Regions from separate parts of the Homo sapiens genome. Here regions 1, 2, 4, 5, 6 and 7 are each linked to region 3. Evidence: fine-mapped expression QTL. A gene starts in region 3. Each other region holds a variant in brackets. All regions are shown on one strand. Distances are between the middles of the regions. Region 1 has its middle 28 kb from the start of PECAM1. Region 2 overlaps SMURF2 (SMAD specific E3 ubiquitin protein ligase 2). Region 3 holds the start of MILR1 (mast cell immunoglobulin like receptor 1). Region 4 has its middle 23 kb from the start of MILR1. Region 5 overlaps PECAM1 (platelet and endothelial cell adhesion molecule 1). Region 6 overlaps SMURF2 (SMAD specific E3 ubiquitin protein ligase 2). Region 7 holds the start of GNA13 (G protein subunit alpha 13).

Region 1 (4,078 bases), 30 kb before region 3:
TTTGAAACTGTGGAATTTTTTTCTGAATATTTTCTATCCACGGTTGGTTGAATCCATGAATCTGGAACCCATGGATATGGACAGCTATATCTGCAAAGGGGCTCTTTTTTTTGAATGAGGAAGACTCAATGACATTCCACTCTATTCCTTCCACTTCCATGGTGCCATTCCGGTACTAGAGGATTTCACAAAAACTGCCCCATACAGTGGAGGCTTCAGCCACTGTAAACTTATAAGCCCAAGAATCCCATTACTTAGCTCATCAATGATATGACCACGGCAATCTGGGCATTTCAAGAAGGAAGGAGATGCATTCTCTCTCTCTCTCTCTTTTTTTTTTGAGACAGACAGAGTCTTGCTCTGTCACCCAGGCTGGAGTGCAGTGGTGTGATCTCAGCTCACTGCAACCTCCACCTCCTGGGTTCAAGCAATTTTCTTCCTCAGCCTGCTGAGTAGCTGGGATTACAGGCACCTGCCACCATGCCCAGCTTACTTTTGTATTTTTAGTAGAGATGGGGTTTTACCATGTTGGCCAGGATGGTCTCGAACTCCTGACCTCAAGTGATCCACCCGCCTTGGCCTCCCAAAGTGCTGGGATTACAGGAATTAGTCACTGCGCCCGGCAGGGATGGAGTTTTATCAATTTAGCAAGGTTGTCCCTTATCTACTGGGGACTTTAATTAATCAAATATACATATAAATACAAATAGAAAAATCATTGACTACTTAGTTAATGCTATTTTGGATAAAATATTCCCAATAATGAGATTTATAAAATACAAATAATGAAGGGGCCAGGAGTGTTGGCTCATGCCTATAATCACAACACTTTGGGAGGCAGAGGCAGGAGGATCACATGAGTCCAGGAGTTTGAGACTGGCCTGGGCAGCATAGTGAGACTCCATCACTAAAACAAACAAACAACAAAACAAAACAAAACAAAACAATTAGCTGGGCTTGGTGGTGCATGCCTGTAGTCCCAGCTATTAGGGAGGCTGAGTTGGGAGGATGAGGCCCTGGAGTTCAAGGCTGTAGTGAGCCATGGTTGTGCCACTGCACTCCAGCCTGGGCAACAGAGCGAGACCCTGCCTCAAAACATAAAATAAATAAATACATAATAAAAATAATGGGGGGTTTTTGATGGTGAAAAGGTAGGACTGCCAGCCTGCTCAGAATTATGGAACATTTTAAAGTAGCCAAAAACATTTTTCTCTGTGATAATCAAGGTATCAGGTATGCATTTCTGCAGGACTAAAAGAAACTCTACATACATTTGATGGTATTTTTCATGTAAGGACTAAATTCTTTTAACGAGCACCTCATTTGGTTTACCCTCTATAGGCTTGAAGCAGGAGGGTATTTCTGAAGGGAACTTCAACTTGTTTCTTGTCTGTTTGTTTTGTTTGTTTGTTTGTTTGAGACAGAGTCTTGCTCTGTAGCCCAGGCTGGAGTGCAGTGGTGTGATCTCGGCTCACTGTACTCACTGTAACCTTCATCTCCCAGGCTCAGGTAATCCTCCCACCTCAGCCTCCTGAGTAGATGAGACTACAGGTGTGCGCCACCACACCTGGCTAATTTTTTGTATTTCTTGCAGAGACGAGGTCTCACTATATTGCTCAGGCTAGTCTTGAATTCCTGGGCTCACGCGATCCTTCCTCACTGGCCTCCCAAAGTGCTGGGATTACAGGAGTGAGCCGCTGTGCCTGGCCTCAGCTTTTTTTTCTTTAATTTCAAGTGACTCAAAAGAAAAACAAGCGAAAATAAAAATAAAGTGTTAAGGCATAAACAATTAATGGGCAGTCTTTCCTCCCTAGCGCTTTTGAAATTACAGACACTTGACAATGACGCCATCTAGTGGAAGATTAGCAGGTCAGACGAAAACCCATCTATTTGTAATTTATCAGCCGCAGCTTCTCCTAAACGCTTTTTTTTTTTTTTTTTGAGACAGAGCAACCTCCACCTCGTG[G/A]GTTCAAGTGATTCTCGTGCCTCAGCCTCCCAAGTACCTGGGATTACAGGGGTGCACCACCATGCCTAGCTAACTTTTTGTATTTTTAGTAGAGACGGGGTTTTACCATGTTGCCCAAGCTGGTCTCAAACTCCTGGCCTCAAGTCGATCCACCCGCCTCAGCTTCCCAAGGTGCTGGGATTACAGGCGAGAGCCACTGCACCTGGCCACCCCCAACACCTTTAAAATAGCTTTGGACGCTCCCAGTGCTTATTTCACTTTTACATTGTTATTTCTAATACAGACATACTATTGATATTAAAAAGTACATAAAATATGTAATGCAGAAATAGTACATTGAAAATATATAAAGTAGGCCAGGCATGGTGTCTCATGCCTGGAATCCCAGCACTCTGGGAGGCCAAGGAGGGAGGATCGCTTGAGTTCAGGAGACCAGCCTGGGCAACACGGCAAGACCTCGTCTCCACAAATAAAAAAAATTAGCCAGGTGTGATGATGAAGTATGCCTTTAGTCCCAGCTACTGGGGAGGCTGAGGCAGGAGGATCACCTGAGCCATGGAGGTCGAGGCTACAGTGCTCACCGCAAGTTTTTTGCCCCCAAAAAACTTGCGTTTCAGCCCAAACACCATTCCCATTGAGTAGCAAGCAACTTTGAGCAAATATCTCAGCTTCTCCCTCTGTAAATTCCAACAGTAAGGCTCTTCTAGCACTATGTACAAACAAGTATTTTCAGCCTTCCTACAAAGAGACAGACTACCTTTATAGTTACAGTTTCCTTTTTATTTATTTATTTATTTTTGACAGGGTCTTGTTCTGTTGCCCAGGCTGCAGTGCAGTGGTGTGACCACGCCTCACTACAGCCTTGAGCTCCGGGGCTCAAGCACTCCTCCTGCCTCAGCCTCCCCAGTAGCTGGGACCACAGGCATGCCCCACCATATCTGACTAGTTTTTAAATTATTTGTAGAGATGAGGACTTGCCATGTTGACCAGGCTGGGTTTTTTCATGTGTGAAACAGAACACGTCACAGGGTCATTATGAGAATGGAGTCAGCTGGCCCATCTAATGAACTGACCTTTAACCAGGAGGTACTCAGTAAGTGCTAGATTCTTCTCTTTGGAACTTGAAAGACCAGAGGAGAGCCCAGCAAACTCAGAGAAGCAGGAAAGACCATTCATAGGATGTTGTTCCTGGGTGCTGATGCCCCACAATTGGGGCTAGTCCACTCCTGGGATGGCCAGCAAAACTCACTTATTCAGAGCTGTGGACTGACAGAGCAAGAATCAGGAGAAATAGATGGGTTTCGTCTGACCTGCTAACCTTCCACTAGATGGCGTCATTGTCAAGTGTCTGTAATTTCAAAAGCTCTAGGGAGGAAACTGACTGCCCATTAACTGTTTATGCCTTAACACTTTATTTTTATTTTCGCTTGTTTTTCTTTTGAGTCACTTGAAATTAAATTTAAAAAGTTGAGGCCAGGCGCAGTGGCTCACTCCTGTAATCCCAGCACTTTGGGAGGCTAGTGTGGAAGGATCACGTGAGCCCAGGAATTCAAGACCAGCCTGAGCAATACAGTGACACCTTGACTCTACAATAAATACAAAAAATTAGCCAGGTGTGGTGGTGCGCACCTGTAGGCTCATCTACTCAGGAGGCTGAGGTGGGAGGATCACCTCAGCCTGGGAGATGGAGGTTACAGTGAGCCAAGATCACACCACTGCACTCCAGCCTGGGCTACAGAGCAAGACCCTGTCTCAAACAAACAAGCAAACAAGCAAAACAAACAAACAAGAAACAAGTTCACTCAGGTCAGCTGATGTAGTCTTCCCAGAATCCTCAGCACCCCCTTCCCTGAAGGGGGTCTGGAGGTCCACTGGCATCACTTTGGGACCTAGGGAGTGCAGCATTCTCCCAGGCGGCAGCCCAGGCCATTCCGGATACAAGACAGCAAGACAGAGTCACCAGAGCCCTTACTTGTCCCCTGTCCCTACAAGGAAACCCAAAGCCTTCCTTCCTTCCTTGTGCTCAGCCTGTGGTAAACACCCAGATTTTCTGGAATCGTCTTCTCTCCACTAACAAAATCTTGACAAATCATCTCTTAGGATAGGTCACTT
Region 2 (4,078 bases), 120 kb after region 3:
GAAAGTAGATGTTCTTTCATTTTTTAAGAGACAGGGTCTCCATCTGTCACCCAGGCTGGAGTTGGGGTGGTGTGATCATAGTCCACTGCAGCCTCAAACTCCTGGGCTCAGGCGATTCTCCTGCCTCAGTTTCCCAAGTAGCTAGGACTGCAGGCATACACCACCACACCCAGCTAATTTTTTAATTTAAACAACTTTTTTTTTGTAGAGATGAGGTCTCACTATATTGACCAGGCTAGTCTCAAACCCCTGGCCTCAAGTGATCCTGCTGCCACGGCCTCCCAAAGCACTGGGATTAAAGGCGTGAGCCACTGTATCGAGACTCACATTTATTATTAAAAGCATCTATGCGTTTCATCATGTTTAACTCCCATTTTAACATGTATTGTTTCAAAAACTTACTTTAAAACTAAATGCAAGTTAGCAGACAGCCGAGGATCTGTAAATTGTGTTGTTCTGTTGTTATGGTCAACGAAATAAACTCTGCCTGTTGCCGTATTACGGATCTCCCATCCAGGAGGCAATGGACCAAGCTCTTCACAATTGATGTTGCTAAGATCCCTGCAAAAACAAATATAAAATAAAAAATACCTCATTGCTCGCCCTGCTGAACCAAGCAAGTGTAAATGACACAGAACAATTCCACAAAGTGTGAGAAAATGTATTGTTTCAGAAACTTGAGATGTTCAGCTGGAATCTTTAATTCCCAATGGTTTAACAAACTTTCATCTTCAAAGCCCAATCCATAAATGGCTCAGAAAAACTTATCACATAGCCTACATTTTTTAGTAATTTCCTAGGCTTTAATGTAATACAGATTTAAATTAATATAAAATCAATCCCAATATTTGCCAACATAAACTGTATTTCAACACGTGTTTGACAGGAAGTAATTTTACAAGTGTCAGTGACATAAAGAATTAAATGCTTTCTAAAATGTCCCTTCATTTCTTTACTATACCATAAAATTTGCATAAAATGTCCATTCCATAATTTTAAGCTCGCCAACAAAGCAAAACTGGAAATGTTACTGAAATTATGATCCTGAAAATAATCACAGCATATTTTTAAAGAATAAACTGCAATTCTAAAATCTGTAAAGTTAGTCAATGAAGAACCTGTTTAAGATACATTACCAAGAGTGCTCTAAGGGTTACCACTGCAATAAGAAAAGCTAAGATTTTTAATGGACCAAAGACTATTGCTATTATATTATACATTCTTAAAATACTAGTATATATAGAGAAGGATTAATAGGGCCTTAAAGAATGAGTTAAGGAGCTTCCAGGTTGGTGAACACACTGAGGTACTGGACGGTGGCCTGCCCAGAGAGGGCATGGTAGCTCCTTGCCCTCCCCCCATACTGTGTCCTAAGCATTGCTTCCATTTGGCTGTTCCAGAGTTGTAGCCTCTGTAATAAACTGGCAATAGAACTGCAAATTCTTATCCTCTACACTGTTAGAAAAAAATATTTCAGTGAAGCTTCCAAAGTGTGGAAATTGCTGTTGTCATCCACCAGAAGAGAAAAGTCACTGCCCTTGGTGACATAATTGAGACTGCGTGTAACAATGTATGATATGATCAGGTCATTTCCTGCCTTAAATGAATACTTTAGGTTACCAGAGCCATGTGTAAATACCAAAGAAACGACATACTCTGAAAGTGACCAAGCAAACTCAAGCATCTAGATAGTAAAACTGTTTTTGTGGTCCTCTTTTTATTAAAAAAAAGAGGAGGAGGAGGAGGAGGAGGAGGAGGAGGAGGAGGGGGAGGAGGAGGAGGGGGAGGAGGAGGAGGAGGAGGGGGAGGAGGAGGGGAGGAGGAGGGGAGGAGGAGGAGGGGAGGAGGAGGAGGAGGGGAGGAGGAGGAGGAGGAGGAGGGGGAGGAGGAGGAGGAGAAGATAAAAGCAGCATGTTTATGTAAATTTAAATTGTAACAGATAATTATAAGTAATCACAAATTTCATCAAAACCACATTTTAAAAGTTATACTAGAAAAATGTTTTTCCTGAGATGACTTCTCCTTAGTCACAGTGAAACCAATGATGGGCACACAGGGACCTATATTTGCCAAAGCAATCATTCTGACTTCTGCTATAGGTGTTCCAAGAGACTCCTGCTACAGAACAGCTAAAGTGTAGGAAAAAACACCATTTGAAACACTGCTAGTCTCAAAAGAGGCAAGGGAAAGTTCCAAGAATTCTCCTCAAATTTTAAAAAAAAGGG[A/C]GTTCGGGGGACTGAGTAAAGATGGTACCTGAGTGGCAGGTAGGCAGAAGGGCAGGCCAGCAGCAAGACTGGGATAGGAAACCTGAAGCTTCCTCCCCAAGCTGAGAACTCAGGGAGTTCAGCCTCCCAAATTCAGCCTCCCAAAGTGCTGGGATTATAGGCATGAGCCACTGCACCGGCCCCAAATAGATTTTTAATGGTTTAGAAATGAAAAACAGGAGCTGGAGGACATTATCCTTAGCAAACTAAAGCAGGAACAGAAAACCAAATATTGCATGTTCTCACTTATAAGTAGGAGCTAAATGATGGGAACACATGGACACATGGAGAGGAACAACAGGTACTATGGCCTATCAGAGGGTGGAAGGTGGAAGAAGGGAGAGGATCAGCAAAAATAACGAATGGGTACTAGGCTTAGTATCTGGGTGACAGAATCATCTGTACAACAAACCCTCATGACACAAGTTTACCTATAACAAACCTGCACATGTACCCCTGAACCTAAAAGTTAAAAAAAAAATTAAAATAAAAAATGAACAATTCTACTGATAAAATGTAGAATTTCATTTCATGTCATTTTATTTAGAATTTTATAAATCTACAGTCATACACGGGAGAGTGCTAAAGCACTGATTAAAAGAGCAAAACACTAGAAATAATCTTTATGTCTCACTGGGAGCTGGTTAAAGAAAAATGGAATGTTATACAGTCATACAAAGTAACACAGATCTGTATTTCAAGACTACAGTCACTCAGTATGCAATATAACAAATAACAAGGCATTAACCATTGTTTTAAAGAGAAATGCAAAACATGATGAAATGAGATTTCTTGGATAAATCTAGGTATCCTGGATATCTTTAAATAAAGTTTGTTTTAAAGAGTCTGACTTTGCAATTTTATAAATATCTTCGAATAGTGATATTGTAATAGAAACTAAATATTTATAGTATACTTTCATAAAAGATCTTCCATACAAAAGGCATATTTGCTAAAGGATCCTCCAAAACAAAAGATGTAAGTTTTTAAGGTAATTTGGGGGATACAGAATAAGAAAAATAATCCCAAGTGTTATTTCATAAAATCATCATTCAAAATACATGTCAATACTCAACATGAGATATTCTTAAAGCTTCGCAGAAATCCTTTACTCACTAATAAAAAACTGACATGTTTCCTCTGGAATAAGAGCCTGTTACCAACAGTGGTGCTGAAATCTGTCTCAATTTCAATTTCTGTTGCCAGCTTACATACTATTCTTTCAACATGTAACTCAAGGTCAACTTTCTCACTATTGTAAATCATTTAGTTAAAAAAAATGATCATTGTTATTCTATACATTTCCTACAAGTAATTTCTAATTAATTTAAAGAAAAGCTTATTATTGACCTTCAACTAGATAAACAGAATCCAAAAAGCTTTTTACAATTTATATAATAAAACTGATTTTGAAAAGTTAGGCCCTTGGATTTTTTTTTTCTTTTTTTAGTAAGCTTAAAAAAAAAAAAGTAAAATTTCCTCCCCACTACTTTTTATCTATTTATTTTTTTAGAGATGGGGTCTTGCTCTGTTGCCGAGGCTGGAGTGCCACGGTGCGATCTCGGCTCACCACAACCTCCACCTCCCAGGTTCAAGCAATTCTTCTTCTTCAGCCTCCTGAGTAGCTGGGATTACAGGCACATGCCACCATGCCTGGCTAATTTTGTATTTTTAGTAGAGACGGGTTTTCACCATGTTGGCCAGGCTGGTCTCAAATTCCTGACTTCAAGTGATCCTCCTGCCTCAGCCTCCCAAAGTGCTGGGATTACAGGTGTGAGCCACCGAGCCCGGCCCCCACTACTTTTTAAAAACTA
Region 3 (4,078 bases):
ACGCCTGTAATCCCACAACTTCGGGAGGCCGAGGCAGGCAGATCACCTGAGGTCAGGAGTTCGAGACCAGCCTGGCCAATGGGGTGAAATCCCGTCTCTACTAAAAATACACAATTTAGCCAGGTGTGGTGGCACGTACCTGTAATCCCAGTTACTTGGGAGGGTGAGGCAGGAGAATCCCTTGAACCCAGGAGGTGGAGGTTTCAGTGAGCCGAGATAGCGCCACTGCACTCCAGCCTGGGCAACAGAGCGAGACTCCATCTCAAAAAAAAAAAAAAAAAAAGAGAGAGAAAGAAAATGTGGGTGCGGGGAATGATTCTATGGTTGTCTGTTCTTTTCCAGCTGGCCAGCAGTGGTAGCCAAAAAGTGACAGGATGCTGATGAAAAACATTGCAGACGTGAAGAAAAGAAAAAGTTGATGGAATTTTGCACATGTATCTGACAGTTCACCCATCCAAACTTTTATAAAGTGCTGTAAAGTTGTTGTAGTAAGGGTGGGGCATGGTGGTTCATGCTTGTAATCCTAGCACTTTTGGAGGCCACACGCAGGAGAATCGCTTGAGCCCAGGAGTTCAAAACCAGCCTGGGCAATATAGTGAGACTTCATCTCTATAAAAAAGTTAAAAACCTAGTAGTGTATGGTGGTTTGTGCCTGTGGTCCCAGCTACTAGAGAGGCTGAGGTGGAAAGATAGTTTGATTCTGGTAAGTGGAGATTGCAGTGAGCCAAGATGGTGCCACTGTGCTCTAGCTTGGGAGACAGAGCAAGATTCAGTATCAAACCTCCTAGCTAGAGGATGCTAGCTAGGTGACGCTGAGTCAATAAGGAAGGATTTGGTTACATCTTGGGACCTAAGGTACAGAGATGAATGTCCCAGCTCAAGGCTGCCCCAGCCATTCAACTCCTTGCTTCCTCTCTTGGTGGACCTGTCAATTCTTGCAAGTGTCAACCAGCTGTCTTGCCCACCTAGCCCTATAGTCATACCTTTCTATCCTTTTGGTGATCTCCACTCCATCAAGAAGTGGCTCTGCACATTCTATTTCAACTGACTTTTTTTTTTTTTTTTTGAGACAGAGTTTTGCTCTATCACCCAGGCTGGAGTGCAGTGGTGCAATCTTGGCTCACTGCAACCTCCACCTCCCGGGTTCAAACGATTCTTCTGCCTCAGCCCCTCAAGTAGCTGGAATTATAGGCACGCATCACCACACCCAGTTAAGTTTTTTGTATTTTTACTAGTGATGGGATTTCGCTGTGTTGGCCAGGCTGGTGTCAAACTCCTGACCTCGGGTGATCCGCCTGCCTCAGCCTTCCGAAGTGCTAGGATTACAGGCATGAGCCACCGCACCCAGCCTGCACGTTCTATTTCAAAGGCTGATCTAAGGTAACTCCTACTTCAGATCTCCTGGCACTGGAGGGCTTGCCGTAATATCAAGTCCCCAAGGCTCCCTTGATTCAGAAATCACTGAGGCAGCAGCACCTTGTACAGATATTTCTCAGCCTTCACTGTGCGTAAGAATTGCTCAGGGCCCTTGTTTAAAAAAAAAAAAATCAGCGTCCTGGACTTGAAACCCAGTAAGTCTGGAGTGGGGTCTAGGAATCAACGTTTAACAAAAGCAGGCATTTTTGGCCAGGCACAGTAGCTCACACCTGTAATCCCAGCACTTTGGGAGGCTGAGGCGGGAGGATCACTTGAGCTCAGGAGTTTAACACCAGCCTGGGCAACTAGACCCCTGTCTTTACAAATAAAAATAATTAGCCAGTCCTGATGGTGCACACCTGTGGTCCCAGCTACTCAGGAGCCTGAGGTGGGACGAGCACTTGAGCCCAGGAGTTTGAGGCTGCAATGAGCTATGATCACAGCACTCCACTCCAACCTGGGTGACAGAGTGAGGCCAGTCTCAAAAAAAAAAAGCAGGCATTTTTGATACAATATTTGTATGTATCTGCTTAAGACAGTCGGTTTGCTTCCAAAGACTAAATCAAACTTCCACCAAACTCCTTTTGGCATAGACTGAGTCCAGAGCAAGGAGATCAGATGGGTTTACATAGACAATGTAACAGTCAGATTTACCTCTTCTCTTTCCCAGCCAGCATGGGACGATGTGGGGGTGTGGGGGGGTGGGGGGGGCGGGGGAGTGGCAATCTACCAAATATCTCTCTTCTTACAGGAACTCACAGAGGAAGACAGATTGGTCGAACAAACCAGTATTATGCAAACCTCATCCAAACCCTCTGATTTCCTTAACTTGGCTAAGAAAAAGAGGAAGTTCTCCGAGTTACTCACCACTGTGGTTCTACTATGCCTTCTGACCCCGTCTTGGACTTCAACTGGGAGAATGTGGAGCCATTTGAACAGGCTCCTCTTCTGGAGCATATTTTCTTCTGTCACTTGTAAGCCCCCCTTATCATTCTGAGGCTCGAACCTCCAAGCCAACGTGTCATGTGGAAAGTGAGCTTTATCGTGTTCCTTTTCTGTTTCAGGTAGAAAAGCTGTATTGGATTGTGAGGCAATGAAAACAAATGGTAAGTTTCATTTACTTCTTTCTTATTGAAACCATTTTCACTGAAGTGGTGAGACAGTCTGATTGCAACATAAGCGTCCATTCAAAAGTGTTTCTGAGCTTTTATGAACAACCAAAGAACAGTCTTTTCAATTATCTATCATTTAAAATAAAATGATTTTAGGGAGGGGATTGCAGCATTTTTTTCTGAGACTCAGTGAGAAAAATAATGAAATTTGTTTTCACAATGAAAGTTTTCTAACTTTCCTTGTTATTGTTGTTTTATGGTTGTTGTGTTTTAACTAGAAAGCCAACACACAGGCTGGGTGTGGTGCCTCCGGCCTGTAATCGCAGCACTTTGGAAGGCTAATGGGGTAGGATTGCTTGAGCTCAGGAGTTTGAGACCAGCCTGAACAACATAGTGATACCTCGTTTCTTAAAAAAATAAAACAAAATAAAAAAACCCACAGAATTATTGTGAAATAATTCAAGCAACACTAGAAATATACATTGGGAAGTGGTCTAACCTCTGGTTCTACTAGTTACTAGCCAGCAGCCTGAGCTCATGACATACCCAGTTTGACCTTAATTTCTTTCTTTCTTTCTTTCTTTCTTTTTTTTTTTGAGATGGAGTCTCAGTCTGTCGCCCAGGCTGGAGTCAGTGGTGCAATCTCGGCTCACTGCAACCTCTGCCTCCCAGGTTCAAGTGATTCTCCTGCCTCAGCCTCCCGAGTAGCTGGGACTACAGGCGTGTGCCACCAAGCCTGGCTAATGTTTTGTATTTTTTGTAGAGACGGGGTTTCACATCGTTAGCCAGGATGGTCTCGATCTCCTGACCTCGTGATCCGCCCACCTTGGCCTCCCAAAGTGCTGGGATTACAGGCGTGAGACACTGTAATTTATTTCATCTGTGAAGTGGGCTAATAAAAGCACCTACCTGGTAGGCTAGTGTGCAGATCAAATGAGACAATCCCTGCTCCTCGTCACAGTGCCAGGCATATGGTAAACCATCCGTAAGTGATAGCCAAGGTGGTGGTTGTTACTGTATAAAATGTAAAAGTTCTGTTACAATCCTCCTCCAATTCTTCTCCCCTTCCTATCCAGAAGCAGCCGTTATCAACAGTCACTTTATATTCGTTATCTTTTTTTGTTTGTTTGTTTTTGAGACAGAGTTTCACTCTTGTTGCCCAGGCTGGAGTACAGTGGCACAATCTCGGCTCACTGCAACCTCCGCCTCCTGGGTTCAAGGGATCCTCCTGCCTCAGCCTCCCGAGTAGCTGGGATTACAGGCACGTGCCACCATGCCTGGGTAATTTTTGTATTGTTTTTTGGTAGAGACGGGGTGTCATCATGTTGGCCAGGCTGTTCTTGAACTCTTGACCTCGTGATCCTCCTGCCTCTGCCTCCCAAAGTGCTGGGGTTACAGGCATGAGCTACCACACCAGCCTTAGCTCCTCTTTTTCAACAGCTGCATGGTATTTTAAGACTCAGCCATGATTCGTTTAACCATCCTTATTTATTGCCCTGCTTTTTGGGGGCAATATAAACAATGCTACAATAAACATCCTTGTACACAAC
Region 4 (4,078 bases), 23 kb after region 3:
GTTTCACCATGTTGGCCAGGCTGGTCTCAAACTCCTGACCTCAAATGATTGGCCTGCCTTGGCCTCCCAAAGTGCTGGGATTACAGGCATGAGCTATTGCGCCCGGCAATATGAATGAATGTTTTTAATACCATTGAATTACACACCTAAAATTGGTTAAAATGGTAAAAAATTTTATGTTATGTATAACTTACCACAATAATTTAAAAAATATTGTGAAGCGCCTGCCTCATGTGAGGTCTTCTAATAAGAGGGGCTGTTCTCCTTCTCAAGAGCGCTCGCGGGCATTGGGAGTTTCTTATTCTCAAATGTCCACATCCCAAGGCCTACCCCGTCCCTGTCAGTGTCAGAAGTTAGCAGAGCAGAACTGCTAGATGTGCTCACTCCATCTCCTCCATGGTTGGCCCACCCTTTCGATCAGATCCTGGAATTGGCTTTCAGCACAGCCTTCCAGCTGGCTGTGATAAATGAGAGTGGCTTAAACCCTGTCATCAGGGTTTCACAGCTTGCCCTGAACCGTAGCCTCTCATTTTCTCCTTGCAAATCTTCTAAGGCAGCTAAGAGAAGCCAATTAACTTCACAATCCACATAATTAGCATTGCCCCAAACCTTTCAAGTGCTGGAATGCTGGCGTCCACTAGTGCCTCATTTCTTTCTAAACCTCATTCCACATGGCAGGGGAAGGTCTTAGGAATTGTGGAGCTGTGGCGTTCTAAGGGTTCTCACTGCCTACCTATCACCAGCAAGGGAGTCCTTGTTGCCATCCATCCCTAGGGGGTAATTTTGTTCCCTGAGGCTGCTTTCTAGGGACTTCTGGTCGCTTGTTTTATCCTGGACCAGACCTGAAAGCAGAGCCTGAAATAAGGCCTTCTATGCACATCATTTATGTAGGAGGTGGCCCTAGGAAGCAGGCCCAATGCGCCATGGGAAAAACCAGTACCAGGGTGTTTTGCTGAGTTGAGCACTGTGGTGGGCAGCTGGACATGAGCCCACTGGAATCTTCTGAAGAGCCCAAGAGCCTCTTCTCAGTATTGTCCACTTGAGGATTGATAGTGAGAGGCATTTATCCACTGGTGTCCAACGCTCACTGGTTGAGGATCACCCCAGAAAGCGACACCTCCCCCACTTCTAGACTAGCATGTGGGTATTCCAAGCAGGCTTACCTCAGTGTCTCACCCCAGGCACTGCAAACACCCCAGGACAGAAAGTGAACATGTGTATTGTGCAATTGAAGCAAGACACTATCAGTGCAAAGTGAGTAGACCCTCAGATGCTGCTGGGTCAGAGGGAAGGCCCAGGGATATGACACAGGACACAGAGGTGGCAGATACACCACCTCCCAACATTTCCTCTATCACAGCAACTAGAACAATGGCAACAATAGGGGTGGGTGTGGTGGCTCACGCCTATAATCCCAATACCCTGGGAGGCCAAGGCAGAAGGATTGCTTGAGCCCAGGAGTTCAAGACTAGCCTGGGCAACTTGGCGAAACCCTGTCTCTACAAACATATTTGTATGTGATTGAACAAGTAGAACAATGGAACGGAAAGTCCAGATGTAGTTCTAAATATGTACAGGAACTTAGTATAGGATAAATATGGCATCTTAAATCAATGGGGAAAAGATGGATTATTCAACATATTGTAAAAACTTGAGAATCACATTAAAAAAGTTGGACTCCTACCTCATTCTTTACAACAAAATTAATTCTGATAGATGTAGTCACAGAAGAGCTAGAAGAATATGCAGGGGATTTAAAAATAATCTTGAAGTGGGGAGGACTTTTATAGGTATGACTCACAACCCAGAAAACATAAAGGATTGTTAAATTTAATTAGATAAATCATTTAATTAGATGAAACATTTAAAAATTACATTTAGAAATCATAAACTAAATCCAAAGAATAACTAGGGGCCGGGCGCAGTGGCTCACGTCTGTAATCCCATGGGGCAGGTGGATCACCTGAGGTTGGGAGTTTGAGACCAGCCTGTCCAACACGGTGAAACCCCGTCTCTACTAAAAATACAAAAATTAGTTGGTGTGGTGGCACATACCTGTAGTCCCTGCTACTGGGGAGGCTGAGGCATGAGAATTGCTTGAACCTGGGAGGTGGAGGTTGCAGTGAGCCAAGATCGCGCCACTGCATTCCAGCCTGGGCGACAGAGCAAGACTCCATCTCAAAAAAAAAAAAAAAAAAAAAAAAAAAAAAAAGAATAACTAGGGAGAAAACACCATGATGTGTTGCATAATAACATTTCAGTCATTCATGGACCAAATATAAAATGGGGTCCCAAAAAACTATAATACCGTGTTTTTACTGTACCTTTTCTATGTTTAGACACATTTAGATACACAAATACTTACCATTGTGCTACAATTGCCTAGTGTTCAGTAGCATGCTGTACAGGTTTATCCCTAGGAAGAATAGACTATCCCACACACCCTAGGC[G/A]TGTAGCAGGCTATGCCATCTAGGTTTGTGTGAGTACACTCTATGCTGTTCAAACAGTGACCTCCACTGTTAGGTGAAGCATGACTGTATTTTGAGCCCAGGTCTCAGATATTGTATGAAGTTTCATAATATTATGAGCTTTTACAAATCATTAAGAGAAAGACCAATAATCCAGTAGAAAACTGGGAAAAGGTGGCATCTGCAGGGTAACACCAGGGCAGCACAGAAATCTTGCTGGGATGAGGAGCTGCAAACATGTGTGGTCGACTTTTTGGCCTTCTGCCTCTTCTACTCTCAGGGATGGGGGATTACAACTAAAGAAGTTGTCTTTTGGCCGGGCGTGGTGGCTCACGCCTGTAATCCCAGCACTTTGGGAGGCCGAGGCGGGTGGATCACAAGGTCAGGAGATCAAGACCATCCTGGCTAACACGATGAAACCCCGTCTCTACTAAAAAATTCAAAAACATTGGCCGGGCGAGGTGGCGGGCACCTGTAGTCCCAGCTACTCGGGAGGCTGAGGCAGAAGAATTGTGTGAACCCGGGAGGCGGAGCTTGCAGTGAGCCCAGATCGCGCCACTGCACTCCAGCCTGGGCGACAGAGGAAGGCTCCGTCTCAAAAAAAAAAAAAAAAGAAGAAGTTATCTTTTCTCAGTGTTGCTTCTCCCTAAGGATTTAAAGGGGAGACCTGGCCAGAGGAATCATCAACAGTGGATTTGTGATGACTGGAGTTCATTTCCTTCTTTCTCAACTGTCCTGGAAGGAAATGGACTAGTGCCTTACCTCTGACTCTTCCGCAGCACACACCCACCACCAGAGACAGTAACTGAGATCTGCAGTAGCACAGAAACTTACAGGTTAGAAAAATTAGACACCTAAGGATTTCATGACTCCAGACCTGTTTCCTTAGCATAATACCACACCAGTAGGAGAAATACAACTTACGAAATTTCTTTGTAAATAAATTCTATAACATTTTGGGTAAAAATTTATCATAAAAAAATTATTAAAAGCAATTGGGTTGGAAGGAAGTTCTGTCAAAATACAATCCAGGTGTGCAGTTCTCTGATAAATTTAGCAGTGGTTACTACTGAGGCAGTCTCAAAAAAAAGTGTAAAAGGACTTTAAGGGGTGATGAAAATTTTCTACATTGCCTTTGTGGAGATGGTTATACATTTGTCAATACTCATCAATTTGTACATTTAAAAGAGGTAAATTTATTGTATGTAAATTGTATCTTAATAAAACTGATTAAAACAGACATACAAACCCCAGACCCTCTGCAGTCCTGAATTTGAGTGGAAAATATTGGTGTGAACTCATAATTTATTTTTCATTTGTTATTATTATTATTATTTTGGAGATGGAGTCTCACCCTGTTGCCCAGGCTGGAGTGCAGTGGCATGATCTTGGCTCACTGCAATCTCTGCCTCCCAGGTCCAAGCAATTCTCCTGCTTCAAACTCCCAAGTAGCTGGGATTACAGGCGCCTGCCACCATGCCCAGTTAATTTTTGTATTTGTAGAAGAAACGGGGTTTCACCGTGTTGGCCAGGCTGATCTTGAACTCTTGACCTCAAATGATCCACCCACCTCAGTCTCCCAAAGTGCTGGGATTACAGGCGTGAGCCAC
Region 5 (4,078 bases), 88 kb before region 3:
TAAATTACTATCACCATCACTGTAAGGATATAGTTCACGTGACAACCAAACATGACCCCTAACATTTTTTCTATGCTTATTGGTATTATGATTCAGATGTTTCTCCATCATTTAATTAGGAGAGCTTGTGTTTCTTACCACAGCATTGAAACAAAGAATATGTCTTCTTTTTTGTATGCCTCACACCATTAGGTGCTTAGTCTATGTTAATGTTAATTTTTTTTTTTTTTGAGATGGAGTCTTGCTCCGTTGCCCAGGCTGGAGTGTAGCGGAATGATATTGGCTCACTGCAGCCTCTGCCTCCCAGGTTCAAATGATTCTTGTGCCTCAGCCTCCCGAGTAGCTGGCATTAAAGGTGCCCACCACCACACCCAGCTAATTTTTTGTATTTTTATTAGAGACAGGATTTCACCATGTTGGCCAGGCTGGTCTCGAATTCCTGACCTCAGGTGATCCGCCCACCTCAGCTTCCCAAAGCGCTAGGATTACAGGTGTGAGCTACCTCAACCAGCCTATGTTAATGTTAATTGAAAAGGTATGGCTACTATTAGACTATACATGAATAGAAGCAGGAATCCCTCTCTCCTATTCACATCCACCAGCAGCCCATGTAGATAGGCAGTTACTAAACAAGAAGGACAAAGAGGAGGAAGCCTTATTAAACTTTTTACAACAGGATGCAAAATATCTAAGACATGCAAGCAATGGCACTCCTGAGGCCTTCTGAGAGGCATGAGATAGAGGCTTAAGGGAAACTGTCCACCCCCAAGACAATGGTATATTTCTCTTGAGTATGATGAGAATCCCAGGCAAATGTTAGTAACTGCCATGAGACCACAGCCTGTAGCTCTCACTGCTGCAGAATTCACACAAGGCAGGGTTGCCCGGCTAGGAGTCACAACAGCAGAGTCCTGATCTACAATTCTCAGAACAGTGTATCTGAAAAGGAGAAAGTGCTAAGGGAGCCCATATGCACAACTTCAGTGCTTCCTGCAGTCAGGACACTTTCATGCTTATCATATTTTAGCAGTTTGTTGAAAGGTTCTGGAAAGAGATTACATTGTCCTCATCAATAGCCCCCAAATATTTTCCAGCCTCCTTTACTGAACCTTGGCCCTGCTTTGGTGCATATCTAGTATATGGACTTTGCATAAGCACCCACTACTTCTCTCGCTTTTTTTTTTTTTAGATGGAGTTTCGCTCTTGTTGCTCAGGCTGGAGTGCAATGGCGCAACTTGGCTCAGTGCAACCTCTGCTTCCTGGGTTCAAGCAATTCTCCTGCCTCAGCCTCCCGAGTGGCTGGGATTATAGGCGCACGCCACCATGCCCAGCTAATTTTTGTATTTTTAGTAGAGATGGGGTTTCACCATGTTGGCCAGGCTGGTCTTGAACTCCTGGCCTCAATGATTCACCGGCCTTGGCCTCCTAAAGTGCTGGGATTACAGGCATGAGCCACCGCACCTGGCCCCCTACTTCTCTTATTGTTCCCACAGTCCCTGGGCGTGAAAGAATGCCCCAAGCCCACATGATTTCTTCTCACAGCACAGCAACTTACCTATCACCTTCACCCTCAGAACCTCACTTAACATTTTGGCATGGGAATGGCAATTATCTGCAACACACTGGTATTCGACGTCTTCAGTGGGGTTGTCTTTGAATACCGCAGGATCATTTGAGTTCTTGGTACTATTCTCCAAAACTTTACTTGTTTTTAAAAGTTGGTAAGAAATAGGCAAAGTTCCACTGATCGATTCGCAACGGACTTCGATGGTCTGTCCTTTTATGACCTCAAACTGGGCATCATAAGAAATCCTGGGCTGGGAGAGCATTTCTAGAACAGAGGGAGAAACAATCCAAAAGGCACTGAAGGTAAAAGCAAAGCATCCAGCACAAGAGGTTCCTCCTCCAAAGCCTGAGCTTTGCTTTCTATCCCTGCTGTAATTTCAAATGCCTGCCTGCCTTATTTACCTTTATAGGACACCTATGAGACTGACAGGCTGTGTGTGTGTGTGTGTGTGTGTGTGTGTGTGTGTGGTGAGAAGGGAAAGGGAAAGAGAAGTACAATAAGCAAAACAGAGAATGACAGAAATTCAAGGAAAACATTACATCCCCAGAAATACATGTTCATATTTTACCATATCTCACACGCACATGCACACATAATATACTTTTCTTGTGTTGAGCAAAGACACAGAAAACATAGAAAAAGTACAACAAGTAGCCAACAAA[ATGTG/A]TGTGTGTGTGTGTGTGTGTGTGTGTGTATTTGAGACAGGGTCTCACTCTATTACCCAGGCTGGAGTGCACTGGTGCGATGACAGCTCACTACAACCTCCCAGAATCAAGCAATCCTCCTACCTCAGCCTCCCGAGTAGCTGGGACTATAGGTGCACACCACACCTGGCTAATTCTTTATTTTTTGTAGAGACAGGGTCTCACTATGTGCTCAGGCTGGTCTTGAACTCCTGGACTCAAGTGATCCTCCCACATCAGCTGCCCAAAGTGCTGGGATTATAAGTATGAGCCACCACACCTGGCTGAGCATATATGTGTGTGTGTGTGTGTGTGTGTGTGTGTGTTCTGAGACCGAGTCTTGCTCTGTCACCCAGGCTGGAGTGCAATGGCGCAATCTCAGCTGACCACAACCTCCACCTCCTGGGTCCAAGGGATTCTCCTGCCTCAGCCTCCCGAGTAGCTGGGATTACAGGCATGTGCCACCACACCCGGCTAACTTTTGTATTTTTAGTAGAGAGGGGGTTTCACCATGTTGGCCAGGCTGGCCTCAAACTCCTGACCTCAGGTGATCCACCCACCTTGGCCTGCCAAATTGTTGGGATTACAGGTGTGAGCCACCAGGTCCAGCCAATATATATGTTTTTAAATTATTCTCAGCCAGTCACGGTGGCTCATGCCTGTAATCCCAGCACTTTGGGAGGCCGAGGTGGGCAGATCACCTGAGGTCAGGACTTTAAGACCAGCCTGACCAATGTAGAGAAACCCCGTCTCTACTGAAAATACAAAATTAGCTGGGCAAGGTGGCACATGCCTGTAATCCTAGCTACTCGGGAGGCTGAGGCAGGAGAATCGCTTGAACCCGGGAGGCAGAGGTTGCAGTGAGCCGAGATCATGTCATTGCACTCCAGCCTGGGTAACAAGAGCAAAACTCCATCTCAAAAAAAAAAAAAAAAAAAAAAGATAAAAAAAGTCTTCTTAGTGCTTCAGCCTCTTAACAGATAAGAATTATATTAGGTCATTATTTAGGCATTAGTTTATTTAAACCTTATACAATGAGATTTCCTCCTCCCAAGAACAAAAAATAAAATAAAACGTTATAACACACATTTGTCTCTTGCATTCCTGCCTTTTGAGTTAGGTGGTTAGAGCATTAAAAATAGGCTAAAATCCTGGTTCAGTTGAAGCTATAATAAAATCTTAGCTGGATAAAACACAGCCACAGGTTAAATGAAAGGATCGTGACTGAATAATATAGTGACAGTGACAACTTGACTGGAGTTCTATAATCAACCAGAATCTCGCCACCCAAAGTGTGGTCCAGAGACCAACAGCATCCACATCACCAAAATGCTAGTTAGAGATGCAGAACCTGGCCCCATCTGGGCCTAAAATACTGAATCATAACCTGTATTTTAACCAGGTCTTGCATGCACATTCAGGCCTGAGAAGCCCAGCTCCTGGTGGTCAAATACCTACATTCTGTCCACTGGAAGTCTTACCCTTTTGGGTTAGCCAGGATACAGATTTAAAAAATGGAATTTTGATATTCTTGGCCGGGTGTGGTGGCTCAGGCCTGTAATCCCAGGACTTTGGGAGGCTGAGGCAGGCAGATCACGAGGTCAGGAGATGGAGACCATCCTGGCTAACACGGTGAAACCCCATCTCTACTAAAAATACAAAAAAATATTATCCGGGCGTGGTTGCGGGTGCCTGTAGTCCCAGCTACTTGGGAGGCTGAGGCAGGAGAATGGCGTGAACCCAGGAGGCGGAGCTTGCAGTGAGCCCAGATTGTGCCACTGCACTCCAGCCTGGGTGACAGAGCGAGACTGCATCTCAAAAAAATAAA
Region 6 (4,063 bases), 100 kb after region 3:
TGAGAAGAAAAGTAATCAGGCAAATCCAAGGTAAAATACATAGGCACACATTCAAAAAGATGACGACCTGATGCAAATTTAGATTTCATGACTCAAACTGGGCTGACAGCAAAAGAGCCGTCTATAGAATCCATTTCAGTTCGCACAGGCACCCCATATAAATACATGTAGCAGAAATACAACTTCACTTTATGCATCTGGGAAGTGTGAGGATGAGGAGCTCTCCTTACAGAGAAGGGCAGCACAGCTGAAAGCACGCTCTCCCCCCAGGGATTTCAGCGCATGCGCTGTGGGCAGCACTGTCGAATTATGTACCAGTGTCGCTTTGTGTGTCCTTATTCATCACCAGCAGCTTTGAAAATGAAGTGCTTAAGAGGTAAAGGAAGCAACTGCCACCCAGTGAAGCACCACAATCATTAGCAATATTACCAGCTCCTCCCAAAATTAACCAGCTTATTCCACAGAAAACCATTCTTAAAAAAGGAATATGGTTGTAAACAAATGGTCTGATGCCATGCAGTAATTAAAATGCTCTGACCGAACAGATGGTTTCCATGACCCATGCTGCTTCTGTCTAATAAGAGAAAGAACGAAAAGTAGAGGGGAGAGGCATCCCAGGCAGGTAAACGTTTCACCAGGTCAAGATGTGAACATGGAAGTGAACGACTTCCCTACAGGAATGTGCAACAGAATTAAAAGTAAGGTGACCAGAAAACAAAGGCAGAGCATCACCACGTACGGTCTCTAGCATGCGGCACTCACTACAATCAGAGAAGCCCGCAGAAAAGGCTCTTGGGAAGGGAACAAAAGAAAGGAGGGAGAAGAAGGTATCACAATGTGAGAGTCACAGATAAGAAGTGAAAAAGAGAATCTCTAAGCACATGGTTTACAAAATATCTCCACAGACCCCACGCTGACAGCCCCGCCCCCACCCGCTGCCCAGCTTGCCTGCACCTCAGGCTGTTACCTTGCAATGCTTTGAAGCCCTGCAGAGGCACTCGAGAGGATCCTGTCACAAACTGAAGCAATCTTGCTCGTCGCTCTTCATCAAAAAACTCCACAGCTTTCCAGAACCATTTGACAATGTTGCTGTCTGGTGTACAGTGTTTTAACCGGGTGTTTACCTTCCAGTCATTAACATCTATCTTTCCAAGTCCACAAATAATGAGCTGTGAAAATAGTACACAGTAATGAACCTGTGGAAACCACAGCCAGACCAAAAATTCCTCAAAAGAGAACTTTAGGTTTGTACTGCTGGCTGTCATTTGGTGGTTCCTAATTAAAGATGCACATCAGAATCATCTGAAAAGCTTTTCAAATTGACATTCCAGGTCCTAGGCTCAGAGATGTTAATTCTGTGCACCTGGGGTGACAGTTGGGATCTATATTTTAAAAAGCTCCAGAGATATCTACTCACTGCAAACTCCCTCTCCAGGGTCTGAGAACCACAGCTGTGATAGACTTGACCAGGTAAACAATTGAGAATGTTTCATAAGTTCATAATAAAATTATAAAGCTTTAAAAAAAATGGACAGAAATTGAGACCCAAAGAGTAAATACAGATATGTGCCTTCTTTGGACCTGCATCATCTACTAGTTTCAATACCTATTAGCTTTGTTGATTGAGGGCAATTCAATCAATTCCTCTGCTGTAATATGGTAGTAACATCCATTTCACTACATCCTGGGGAAGCAACCGATAATGCACAGAAACTTCAGAAATGGGTGTTGAATAAGTGAGTCATACAATTTGCTTAATAATTTTTTTTTTTTAAGACAGAATTTTGCTCTGTCTCCTAGGCTGGAGTGCAGTGGCATGATCTAGGCTCACTGCAACCTCTGCCTCCCGGGTTCAAGTGATTCTCCTGCCTTAGCCTCCCAAGTAGCTGGGATTACAGGCATGCACCACAATGCCCAGCTAATTTTTGTATTTTTAGTAGAGATGAGATTCCGCCATGTTGGCCAGGCTGGTCTCCAACTCCTGGCCTCAAGTGATCCGCCTGCCTCAGCCTCCCAAAGTGCTAGGATTATAGGTGTGAGCCACTACACCTGGCCTACATTTGCTTAATAATATTAAATTGATATTAAAGCACAAAATACATGAGCACATTGATACAGACCTCTGCTAAACACATCCTGATGGAGGGTCACACAGATGAACTATATCCAAATCATTTTATACTAT[C/T]ATTAATATGTCTCCCTAGGGTTCAAGACTAACTCACCATACTAATCTAACATGTTTGTTTATAGCAGTGAATTCCATGTATACTATAAAACATAACTTGCAAATCCTGTATTTTATAGAATTACACCCAGGATTAATATATACAATGCTAAAATAAATGTTATACATATTGTCTTTAAAAATTGGTAGGGTGTGGTAGCTCACGCCTGTAATCCTAGCACTTTGGGAGGACGAGGCATGCAGATCACTTGAGGTCAGGAGTTCAAGACCAGCCTGGCCAACATGGCGAAACCCTGTATCTACTAAAAATACAAAAAGGTAGCCGGGCGTGGTGGCGGGCACCTGTAATCCCAGGTAAGGCATGAGAATCGCTTGAACCCAGGAAGTAGAGGTTGTAGGGAGCTGAGATCCCATCAGCCTGGGGGACAAGTGAGACTGTGTCTCCAAAAAAAAAAAAAAAAAAAAAAAAAGCCAAAATAATGTTAGCCAGGCGTGGTGGTGCACACCTGTAGTACCAGTTACTGGGGAGACTGAGGTAGGAGGATCACTTCAGCATAAGAGTTAACAGTGAGCTAGGATCATGGTACTGCACTCCAGCCTAGGCAACAGAGTGAGACTCTATCTCAAAAAATAAAAATAAAAAGTTTAATGATTCAGGCCTGGTGCAGTGGCTCACGCCTGTAATCCTAACAATTTGGGAAGCAGAGGCAGGTGGATTGCCTGAGCTAAAAAGTTCAAGACCGGCCTGGGCAACATGGTGAAACCCCATCTCTACTAAAAATACAAAAATTAGCCAGGCATGGTGGTGCACACCTGAAGTCCCAGTTACTCAGGAGGCTGAGGCACGAGAATCGCTTGAAAACCTGGGAGGCAGAGGTTGCGGTAAGTGGAGATTGTGCCACTGTACTCCAGCCTGGGTGACAGAGTGAGATTCTGTCTCCACAAATAAAAAAAAGAAAAAAGAGAAGAAAAACAAAGTTTCATGACCCATTAGCAGTAGAAACTATATTAAAAATCCTAACCCTACCAAATAAAGTCTCCAGTAAGGCTTCTATGGGGTTCTGAAATAAAATCTCCAACAAAGCTTCTACAGGGTTCACTGAATTAACACCACACTGAACAGGGAGGAGGTTATCCGAAAAGGATTATGGGTGTATTTAATGACATAAAAGACACCTCCTAAATTCTTTTCTTCAGAGGAATGGCAGTTAGAAGGCCAAATCCTCGTTTATTGTATAAAGAGATGAAAATGCATTATATTTCAACCTTATCGGCATTCCTGCTATGTTCTCCTTCTAACTACTTCCTTCTGGCTATTTCACTATGAACAATTCAATCACAAAAGGAATGGGGAGAGTATTAAGTAAAACCAACCTTTTTAGATTTGTTTGCTAACAGGTCTATTAACAGATTTATTTAGAAAGGACATTGAAGGCATTGAATAAAATCATGTTTCAAATTATTAGTAGACTTCAAATATTTGTGTTATCCCTAACTACTAAATAAATTTGGGACCTTTAATAGAATTAAACCTCGTGTTTTTTAGTTGTTCAGTAGGAAATTCAGATGCATTTGTTTAAGGTCTTAATTACAAAACCTGGGGTGTTTAAGGGCCAGCTTTAAAAGGAAACAAAAAACTATTCACTGTTTAGTATGGCCGTTAATCTAAAGACATTTAGAGGCCAGGTGCGGTGGCTCACACCTGTAATCCCAGCACTGTGGAAGGCCGAGGTGGGTGGATTATTTGAGGTCAGGAGTCCCAGGCCAGCCTGGCCAACATGGTGAAACCCCGTTTCTACTAAAAATACAAAAATTAGCTGGACGTGGTGGCAGGTGCCTGTAGTCCCAGCTACTTGGGAGGCTGAGGCAGGAGAATCA
Region 7 (4,000 bases), 610 kb after region 3:
GTTACCAGGCGCTGCACCTAAATTTTGCCAAAATGCCTTTTCTATAGAACATACTTGACACGCAGAAACGAGTGTTAATTATCTTTCAAATGACAAAATAAAAACCATCTTTTCGATTTCTTTGAATGCCCAGAAATAAACAACTTGTTTATTTTTCACTTAAGAACAAAGTTTAATTTTAAAACTACTGTCAATAAAGAGCCGAGCCAATTATCTAACTCAACACTCATTCATTGTCTCCATCTGTACAGGATCCACATGACTTTTAGGCCAGTCTTCTTACTACTACATTTCATCTAAATAGAAGCAGTGGTACTCCCTTCCTGCCAGCCCCCAGTTACTTAGCGAAAAGGAGAGTGGAACGTGTTGCACAGAAATCACACGCAAACATCCTACCTGACCGTGACACTGGGGCGAAAAAGCACAGATGCTACATTTTCATGCTAACTGTATGGGTCCACTCTCTCCTGATTCCAGTACAGTCAACCTGACACTCCTCAAGTTTCATATTCTCGCCCAAAAGGAGGCTGTCACCCTACGCCCTTGACAAGAAGTCTCGGGCAAAAAGTTCCCTTATTGCGACGGTTCCAGAACTCGCTTGCTTAGGAGACGGCCAAGGAAGCAGGGAGTTGGGAGCGCATGCGACCCCATGTGACTCGGGTCACCCAGCCAGGGTAGCGAGGTTCGGCCCACATCGCCCGAGCAGGGGATGGGGGTGAAGCGGCTAGGGCTGCTATTGGTGTTCCTGCCTCATCCGCAGCGGGGAGGACAGGAGAGGTCTGCCCACACCCCGAGGCAGCACCCAGCTCGCCCCACTTCCCTCTCGCAGGGGGAGAGACCAGGACGCGGTGGGGGGTGGGGGAATGGCCGTGACGCCCACCGGGGAGACAAGCGGGAGAGCAGGGCGACCCCGAGCATCCTCTCGCCCTGGGGCGCGAGGGCACCCCGGGCGGGCAGGGCCAGTTGCCGGGGCGCGCCCCCTTCCCGCCAGCCCGCCCGCCGGGCCCGTTCCTTCGCCAGCGACACAGCGGACCAGGGCGGTGCCCCGCCCCGCACCCGCCGCCGCCCCAGCCCCCCTGCCCTTAACCCCCGGCCCCCATTCCCGGCCCGGCACCTTTGATCACGTTGCTGTAGATGGTGGGGCGGAACTCCTCGCGCGCGCGCTGGTCGAAGTCCTGCCCGTGGATGATCCGCATCTGCTTCAGGAAGGTGGACTTGCCGCTCTCGCCCGCGCCCAGCAGCAGGATCTTCACCAGCCGCTTCACATAGGTCTTTTCCCGAGACAGGCATTTGTCGATCTCCTTGGACTTGCGTTGCTGCTCGGCCTCGCCACTCGTCAGCAGGCAGCCGGGGAAGCACACGGACAGCACGGACCGCGACGGCAGGAAGTCCGCCATCTTGCCGCCGCCGCCGCCGCCTCGGCGGGCCCCTCCGGCTCCCTCCACCTCCTCCTCCGGCGGCGGGCGGCTCCGGCACCGAGGCTCGAGGGCGGGGAGCGCGGCGGCGGCCCGAGCGCGCCCAGGGAGGGAGGGAACCAGCGAACTGACTCGCAGGGCGGGCCGGGCAGGGCGGGCCAGGACAGCGGGGGAGGGAGGGAGGGAA[G/GGAGGGC]GAGGGCGGGCCCGGCCCCGGAGGGGCGGTGGCCCCGGAGCGTGCGCGCTCCCGCTGCCTCCCGGAGGCGCGCTCGCACGCCGCGGCCGCTTCTCCGCCTCCCGCCCTGGGCGGCGAGTCACGAGCTCGATGTGTCGCTCGGGTGCCCGCGCCCGCAGCCGCGGCCGGGCGCGCGGGGAGGGCTGAGGAACCGCGGTCACGTGGGCCAGGCTGGGGAGCCCGACTTTCTGTTTCCCTTTCATGGCCTGAGCCCACTTGTGGGCAGAAGGGCTCCTTCCCCAAGGCCGGGAGGCCGGAGACCAGGTCCCGGACGCGGTTCTTTGGGCTCCCACTTAGCCTCCCTTTCTCCCGCGTTGCGCGCCCGCTGCCCGCTGTCACCGCCCACCCGACCCATTTCGAGGCCACGGACTCGAAAGTTATTCGAACAGAACAGCCGGCGTGAGCCTGGCAGGCCTTTGGTGCATTTTCTTTATTTCATTTTATTTTTTCTCTTTTGAGACGGAGTCTCACCCTGTCGCCCAGGCTGGAGTGCATTGGCTCGATCTCGACTCACTGCAACCTCCGCCTCCCAGGTTCAAGCCATCCTTCCGCCTCAGCCTCCCGAGTAGCTGGGAGTACAGGCGTGTGCCATCATACCCGGCTAAATTTTTTGTATTTATTTTTAGATACAGGGGCTCCCCCCTATGTTGCCCAGGCTGGTCTCGAACTCCTGAGCTCAAGCGATCCTCTAGCCTCGGCCTCCCACAGTGCGGGGATTCCAGACAGAGCCACCAGGCCCAGGCCTGGTGTGTTTTCTTAAAGTGACTCCCTTGACCTTCTAGTCTCCGAATCCCAGAACGGTAACCAGACGTCGTCCACCCCCACTTCCAGCTCTTTCTGGCATTTTCAGACCCCTACCAGGGCTCTCTGTGAGGGGAAAGAACTGGAGTTGATGTTCACTTGAGACGTGCTACCAGGGGCATTTAATGGCTCACTCGTGCATTCCACCTGGGCTGTGATGTGACTTCAGGGACGCTTGGCCGCGCCGGAATTAGCGAGTGGCAGCAGGAGGGTGAGGTCATGGTGAAAATCCCCTACACCGGACACTGTGATGTAGGCTCTTCCCAACAAGGAAGCAGATACACAAACACAACGAGGAATGGGAGCACGCAAATTTTAGCTTTCCTGCCAGATTACAGAGGATATGACCCGTCCAGGGACTTTTTTTCTGTCCTAACAGCAGATTCAGGCCAGGACACCTGAAAGGAGGCCAGGAGACAAGCCACAAGTGACAGCTGTGGGTTGGCAGAGAAACTGCTTAACCGGGACCCCCGAGAGCCGACCTCTTCATTCTTAGTATTTAGTTTCAAGTGGAAAAAGCCACTTTGGTCTGTCCCTGTTTTGGGCAATGCAACGTAGCTTTGGGCTCCTGTGGCTCAGAAACTTCGTATGTATAAGGGAGCGGAGGTAAGAGGTCAGCATTCCAAGAAACTCCCGAACAGGTTTAAATTTTAAAATCGGTACTAATCAGTTACTCCCTGGGGTTGGGTTAATGACCGAGAAGCCTCGACTCAGTAGATTGGCTGCAGTAAACAATGCCTGTAGTAGGATTATCTCCTGTGGCTCTGGCAAGCCCAGAGGGTGGACAACCTACAATATACAAGTAGAGTAGGCTCACCTCCAATATCTGTGGATTGATAAGAGTCAGAATCACTGAGCAGTGCTGTCAGGCAAAATATATGGTAAAAGCCTGCCCTGGATGGAGAATTTTTCCATCATCTCATCTAGTGTTTGGGAGGCCCTGTTCTCTAACCATGCAAGGACTCGCCTCTCCCAGGATTGGGGCATAGAACCTGTCCCCGAGCACTGTTTCTGCATTGACCCCAGGTGCTAATCTGAACTCCAACAAAGAGGAGAGAAACTTGTAAGTTAGGTAGTTAACATCTTTTTTCAGAAGTGTGTGTAATATAATGGAAAACCAAGAATGCCTAGGAGGCAGGAAGGTATTCCTGCCCAGCCAGTTCATGTCGTGACATGCAGAGCAGCAGAGAAAGCTGTTTAAAGCCCTGCGTGTAAGCTTGCCTTGGAACAAACTTGGCTCACATCAAGTCTGGCTGTTCTAGTCAGTGTAGTTTTTAAAAAGAGACCTCTTTGACCTGAAAGTCAAATGAAGGAAGAAGAAGAAGAAGGAGGAAGGAGGAAGGAAGAAAGAAAGAAAAAGAAGGCCGGGCACAGTAGCTCATGCCTGTAATCCCAGCACTTTGGGAGGCTGATGCAGGCAGATGACTTGAGCCCAGGAGTTCGAGACCAGCCTGGCCAACATGGCGAAACTTCATCTCTACTAAAAATACAAAAATTAGTGGGGAGTGGTGGTGGGCGCTTGTAGTCCCAGCTACTCGGGAGGCTGAGGCAGGAGAAT

What was found.
Region 1: its variant is fine-mapped to the expression of MILR1 in esophagus muscle (GTEx, PIP above 0.99).
Region 2: its variant is fine-mapped to the expression of MILR1 in whole blood (INTERVAL, PIP above 0.99). The same link has a PIP of 0.9 or more in subcutaneous fat.
Region 4: its variant is fine-mapped to the expression of MILR1 in whole blood (INTERVAL, PIP above 0.99).
Region 5: its variant is fine-mapped to the expression of MILR1 in whole blood (INTERVAL, PIP 0.90).
Region 6: its variant is fine-mapped to the expression of MILR1 in whole blood (INTERVAL, PIP above 0.99).
Region 7: its variant is fine-mapped to the expression of MILR1 in whole blood (INTERVAL, PIP 0.97).

What each region holds. Positions count from the first base shown.
Region 1 is chr17:64,417,072-64,421,149 of GRCh38, forward strand. No RefSeq gene overlaps it. Among named protein-coding and RNA genes, the nearest start is that of PECAM1, 28 kb to the left of the region's middle. The variant G/A (reference allele first, on the strand shown) is at 1,967.
Region 2 is chr17:64,571,396-64,575,473 of GRCh38, forward strand. SMURF2 (SMAD specific E3 ubiquitin protein ligase 2) reads right to left here. Exons shown (of 19, transcript NM_022739.4): 10 at 403-561. Among named protein-coding and RNA genes, the nearest start is that of CEP95, 66 kb to the left of the region's middle. The variant A/C (reference allele first, on the strand shown) is at 2,226.
Region 3 is chr17:64,446,834-64,450,911 of GRCh38, forward strand. MILR1 (mast cell immunoglobulin like receptor 1) reads left to right here and starts at 2,282. Exons shown (of 10, transcript NM_001085423.2): 1 at 2,282-2,390; 2 at 2,481-2,522. The coding sequence starts at 2,336. RefSeq lists a silencer at 2,145-2,194.
Region 4 is chr17:64,470,286-64,474,363 of GRCh38, forward strand. It overlaps a transcript of MILR1 not described here. Among named protein-coding and RNA genes, the nearest start is that of MILR1, 23 kb to the left of the region's middle. RefSeq lists an enhancer at 2,905-3,405. The variant G/A (reference allele first, on the strand shown) is at 2,451.
Region 5 is chr17:64,358,585-64,362,662 of GRCh38, forward strand. PECAM1 (platelet and endothelial cell adhesion molecule 1) reads right to left here. Exons shown (of 16, transcript NM_000442.5): 7 at 1,556-1,831. Among named protein-coding and RNA genes, the nearest start is that of PECAM1, 30 kb to the right of the region's middle. The variant ATGTG/A (reference allele first, on the strand shown) is at 2,230.
Region 6 is chr17:64,546,633-64,550,695 of GRCh38, forward strand. It overlaps SMURF2 (SMAD specific E3 ubiquitin protein ligase 2), which reads right to left. Exons shown (of 19, transcript NM_022739.4): 17 at 968-1,169. Among named protein-coding and RNA genes, the nearest start is that of CEP95, 42 kb to the left of the region's middle. The variant C/T (reference allele first, on the strand shown) is at 2,186.
Region 7 is chr17:65,055,197-65,059,196 of GRCh38, forward strand. It overlaps GNA13 (G protein subunit alpha 13), which reads right to left and starts at 1,544. Exons shown (of 4, transcript NM_006572.6): 1 at 1,115-1,544. The coding sequence starts at 1,397. RefSeq lists silencers at 782-1,041, 1,322-1,831. The variant G/GGAGGGC (reference allele first, on the strand shown) is at 1,603.